2 separate regions of the Homo sapiens genome follow, and region 2 is linked to region 1. Evidence: fine-mapped expression QTL. A gene starts in region 1. The other region holds a variant in brackets. All regions are shown on one strand. Distances are between the middles of the regions.

Region 1 (2,990 bases):
TATTTTGGAAACCATATTTGTTGCAGGCTAAATTTTGTCCCATCCAAATTCAAGAGTAAAGATCAAATTCTTCTTAGTACTCAGTGTTGCTTGAAAGATGAGTTAGGACCTAATTCTCTGTCCTCTGACTAAACCTTGGGCCCTGTTAGGTGTGTCATTTTACCTTATTTAGTCATGTTACGTGGCCTTAGGTAAGCCATATCATTTCAGTTCCTCAGCAGGGGTAGTCAAGCATGCAAACTGAGATCACCGTTTCTGGCCTCAGACCAGTGATTTTGTAACTACTATCTATGTGACCTTACAAAATATATTACTTCAAGTTCATTTCCTCATCTGTAATACCCACTGTACAAGGCTGTAGCAGGAATTAGTAAGATAAAAATATATGAAGGGTTTGACATATAGTAGATGCTTGAAAGTACTTTTCTCCCAATTATTATAATACATAAAATTTAAGTTTTTTTCTCAAAATAGACCTTACCCATCATTAGATTTACAGAAAGACTCAGGTGAAGTAGTTTTCCAGACTTCTCATTTTAACTATTACTAGGGGAGCTCCTATTCACAAAGTATCTTAAGACAATTACATTTAAGATAGGGCAATGAGTGTTGTGCATCTATCTGCATTAAGAACTAGAAAGTGGTAAATAAGTGAGGGACAGCTAAAATATCATGAAAACTCACGGGAGAAAGAAATTGACTTCACCTTTTAGAGTTGAGGCACACAGAGAAAGGACGTAGGAGGTAAACCTAGAATGCTGCTAATGAGTAGTTTTTCTCTGCGTAGCCCATAGATTGAATACTTTCTCTTCTGCTTCACCATTTTGCACCACTTTTATTATTAAATTTATAAATTAGATTGTAATTCCTGTTTCTGGTCTACTAGTTATTATTATCCGCTTTTGCAGGACATGCTCATTTTACCACCACTGAATTCTTCAGCACCTGATTAAAGTAACAGCTGTAATAAGAAATAACAGAAAGGATATTTGGACTTTGAGCTTAGTCCAACATTAATAGCATGGCTCTTGAGTCTGATTGATTTTGTTTAACTTCAGACTGGGCCTCTTACTTAGGTCAGTGATTTTTAGCGTTGCCAGATAAAATACAGGACACCAGTTAAATTTGAATTTCAGATGGACAAATAATTTTCAGTATAAATATATCCCATACAATATTTAGGGGATACTTACAACAAAATATTATTGTTTATCTGAAATTTCACATTTAACTGGACGCTTGGTATTTTCATTTGCTAAATCTGACAACCTTAGTGACTTCTCTAATCATGTTTGCTTTCTGCAAATAGGGCTGAAAATAGTACCTTCTCCCTAGGATGATCTATATACAGAACGTTGCTCATGGCAAAACCTTAATTTACCTTGCAAATCAGGATACTTTAGTAGAGACTTCTGTTAAAACTCTGGGACAATGACCATGCCCAGGCACCCAAAAAGATGGTTACCTTTATTCGACGGTTTTCTAAAGAGCACAGAGAAAGTTCAATAGAACCCTAAACAAAGGTACAAACTGCGTTGAAAGATACGTAAATGTGCCTTTAATAGCACAAGGGTATCTTAGCCACATCACTGCAAACTGCAGTCTCCCTGGTTACGGGGAAAGCGGTAGTTCGGTCTCTGCGCAAGCGCACAGGGACTTCTTGGGTCCACGCCCCTCCCCGCCGGCGAGAGTCACGTGGGCGAGTCGTAGCTTTAGACAAGCGGCCAGCCTTGACACGTGACCCAAGCCCCAGCTTCGCGCAGGGATGGAGCCGGAAGAGGGGACGCCCTTGTGGCGGCTGCAGAAGCTGCCGGCCGAGCTGGGCCCGCAGGTGAGGGCGGGTACCGGGGGAAGCGGCGCGGGGCCTGGGATTCGCGACAGCCCGGCGTGCGGATCAGGCCGGGTGCGACCCGGACGCCTTCGCAAGCTCCCTAGGGAAGGGAGGAGGAAGGGGCGTGATTTCGGGTGGTTGGTCCCCGCCTTCCCTGGGGAGCCTAGGAGGACAGCTTGGGGCGCCACCCCCAGCCTAGAGGTGCAGCTCCAGGGGCTTTGCGCGCAGAAGCGCCCACACCAGACTGGGCTTTGAAAGCTTAAGTCGGTGTTTGCTGCCTCTTAGTATACGTTTTCTTAATTCATTCAACACATAACCTCCCAAAGGCTCCCTACCTACCGGACAGCAGGTACAGAGCTAGGTGCTGGAATACAATGTGACAAAGACCGAAGCGGACCCTGCCTCCCCCCTTGAGGGTGGTTGGTAGGAAGAGAAATAACTGGGCGAGTTACTTTAGTTAGGATCGTCCCAAGAGGTGATGTACCCATTGACTTCCAGTCTGTAAAAGAACCTGGCTTGTAAGAATCTGGAAAAAGCAACCACATTCATTTGTTCAGCCAGTTTTTCATTGAAGTCTACCATAGATTGAGCGCCCCGATGGGATGAGGTAAATGGTGAGTGAGACACAGCCTGTGCCCTGGTGGAGCATCTTTTTTATAAGTCTCAATTTTGGCTTCCTGTTTCCTCTATTCCATTTATACTGGAGAAAGTGTGGAGGAGACAGAAAGGAATGAACTTACCTCCTGCCAGGGTCAAGAAAAAAAAACACCTAATTCTTTTCTTTGTTTTTGCAAGTGAGGAACCTGAAATGTCAGCAGAAATTTTGGCTAACTTGCCCAGGATTGCCCATCCAGTTAGTGGCAGAGCTGGAACTTATGCTCAGATCTGTTGATTCTGAGTGTTTTATTGGCTTTTGGCTCTCCTTGTCTTCACTCTACCCATTTAGATAAGGCCCATAACCTTTATTACCATATATGTCGATGACTTCTAAATCTTTAGGTCCAGCCAAAAATTTCTTCCTCTATGGTTCAAGAATGCCAGGTAAAAAACAAAACAAAACCCCAAAAACCCCAAACCAAAATCTCTTCCCTGAGTGTCAGGCTTCTGCCACAGGTACCTCAAATTCAGTATGCCCTTGCCTCAGCTCTTCTTTCCCCCT
Region 2 (2,500 bases), 53 kb after region 1:
ATGAACCTTGGGCGTTACTCCCAGACGAACAGTGCCATTTCAAAATCTTAGCCATAATGCTCCTTTAAAGATTACATGTAATGCTATATGGCACAGTGATTCAAAAAGAATACCAGAGGTTGATATAAAGCATGTTTAAATTTTTTTTTGAAAATAAAAATGATAGGAACAGTAAGACAGTCTGGAGCAGAAGCTGAAGTGGAGTATAGTCTCTTTTTCTTACTTATTATGAATATGTACGAGTTTTATAAAACATAGTGTAACACTGAATGCGTGATTTCTAAAAACATCTAAAATGGAGAACAACTCTCCAGTATTAATTAATTAATTCATTCATTCAACAAGTACTTATTTGTTATCTACATTTTAGCTACTGAGGAAAGAACAATGAATGTAAAAGACAAGGGCTCTGGGGTGTATAATTGGGAAGCTGTAGCTTAAAAGGAGAAACAGATGTTAAAAGATAATTATACAAATAAACATATACTCACTATCATGGAAGTCTTATTGTGGAAAAGCACAGGATCCCATAAGAACAATTAACAGCGATACCAAATAATAAATCAAGAGTGAGAGTGTCTATTAAGGCAACCCCAAAGTAGTAGCATTTATGGTAAGAACTGCTACAATTGAGAAATTGAGAGAAGCCCAATATGACCTTCAATTTCGCTAATCATTTTTTTCTGTTGTATACAATGTGATGTTAATTCATCTAATAAAAATTTTAATTCTATGATTTCCATTGTTCCACTTTTATAGTTTCAACTATCTTCTGAAACTCCCCATTTCTTTATACACTATATCAATTTTTCCTACTGACTTTCTCTTAAACTTTTTATTTGGAAACTATTACAGATTCCCAGAAAGTTGTGAAGATAGCACAGAGGGGCCCCATGTACCCCTCACCCAGGTTCTCCAACTGATTACATCTTACATAACTATGATATAATATCAAAGTCAGGAAAGTGACATTGACATAAAGTGTGTATAGTTCTGTGTAATTTTATTGCATATGTAGATTCATGTAACAAGCATTCCAATTAAGTTACAGAACTATTCCATTACTGCAATGATCTCCCTCACACTAGTTCTTTATAATCAGTCATACCCATCCCACATC[C/T]TTCCTCACTATCACTGACTCCCGGCAACCACTAATCTGTTCTCCATCTCTATAATTTTGTTATTTCAAGAGTATTATATCAATGGAATAATACAGTATTATAACCTTTTAATACTGTTTTTTTTCACTCAACCTAATGCCCTTGAGAGACATCCAAGTTTTTGCATGTATCAACAGTTCATTTCTTTTTTACTGGAATAGTACTCCATAGTGTGTATATACCACAGTTTGTTTAACCATTCATCTATTGTAGGATATTTTGGCTGTTTCCAGTTTTGGGCTATTTCTTATGAACTTTAAAATACACTAATTATAGTTATTTATACTAATTATCTTTTAGGCCAATATTTGAGACTTTTACTGCTCTGTTTCTGTTGACAAATGTTTTTCTCTTGATGATGGTCACATCTTCCTGTTTCTTCTTATGTCTAGTAATTTTTTACTATATATTGGATATTTTGAATGATGCACCATAGAGACTCTAAATTCTGCTATCTTCCCCAAAGAATGTTGAGTTTGGTTTGGTAGGCAGTTATATGACTAACATATCATCCAGAATATGTGGAGACTTGGTTTTATGTGTCATTAGGGTGAGCCTATTTTAGATTTTCCCTTAACCCAAGGGGAATCCCTTATTCTTGTGACTTATCTTTACCCTTAAGGTATAAGCCTCTTGAGATTTTTATGGAAAACCTAATGTGCTTACCACCCCCACACTCCCCAACAGGCTGGATTCAAACTCCAAACTCTGACTTTTATATAGTGGACAGTAACTAAAATCTCTGTTCATTTTTCTTTCCCCCAGCTTCTAGCTATTTTTTCTTTCTGTGCTCCTTGGTATTTGTACATTTGTACATTTGTAGCTCAGGGATCAAGCTGGGGAAGTTTACACTCAGGTGTCGAGTTTCTGTTGTGGCTCACTTCTAAAATTTCCAGGAACTCTGGAACAATCAAACTCCATGATCTGACTCTTCAGGTCAATACAACTTCAGTTTCTGCTGAAGTTTTGCTGCCCCACATCCCTCAGTCTGGGACATGGCTTCAGGGGAAAAGCTGCATAAACATGGATTTCACACAGTGTGGTTCCTTCCTTTTGAAAGTTGATTCTCTTTTAGTTTTTGCTTGTTTTGTTACTCTCCCATGTCTTAAAGCAGATTTCTAAAAATGTGCTCACAGTTTATTATTTCTATCAATAGGAGGATTACTCTGATACAAAGTACTCTGCCCTGTTTTAATATGATTTGTTTTTGAATTTTGTCAGAATTATGTCTATTTTTCTGTGGAAATCATTTGTGGAGTTCGTAGTCTAACTTTCCATGGATAAAAACATATTTTAAAAAAATCTCCTTTAAGCATTGTCTTCTGACAGTTGAGGAATTT

Alleles and levels. Positions count from the first base shown, and alleles are read on the strand shown. Sizes are in standard deviations (SD) of each study's normalised expression.
As copies of T replace C in region 2, the expression in neutrophils of the gene that starts at base 1,715 in region 1 goes down (moderate effect, 0.66 SD a copy in BLUEPRINT).

Evidence for each region. PIP is the estimated chance that this variant, and not a neighbour inherited with it, causes the effect.
Region 2: its variant is the best candidate, but not a certain one, in a credible set for the expression of COMMD8 in neutrophils (BLUEPRINT, PIP 0.85).

What each region holds. Positions count from the first base shown.
Region 1 is chr4:47,462,427-47,465,416 of GRCh38, reverse strand. It overlaps COMMD8 (COMM domain containing 8), which reads left to right and starts at 1,715. Exons shown (of 5, transcript NM_017845.5): 1 at 1,715-1,831. The coding sequence starts at 1,766. It overlaps LOC107986277 (a long non-coding RNA gene), which reads right to left and starts at 1,534. Exons shown (of 3, transcript XR_001741683.3): 1 at 1,466-1,534. RefSeq lists an enhancer at 27-76 and a silencer at 1,725-1,984.
Region 2 is chr4:47,410,126-47,412,625 of GRCh38, reverse strand. The region is part of intron 8 of GABRB1 (gamma-aminobutyric acid type A receptor subunit beta1); the gene reads right to left. Among named protein-coding and RNA genes, the nearest start is that of COMMD8, 52 kb to the left of the region's middle. The variant C/T (reference allele first, on the strand shown) is at 1,121.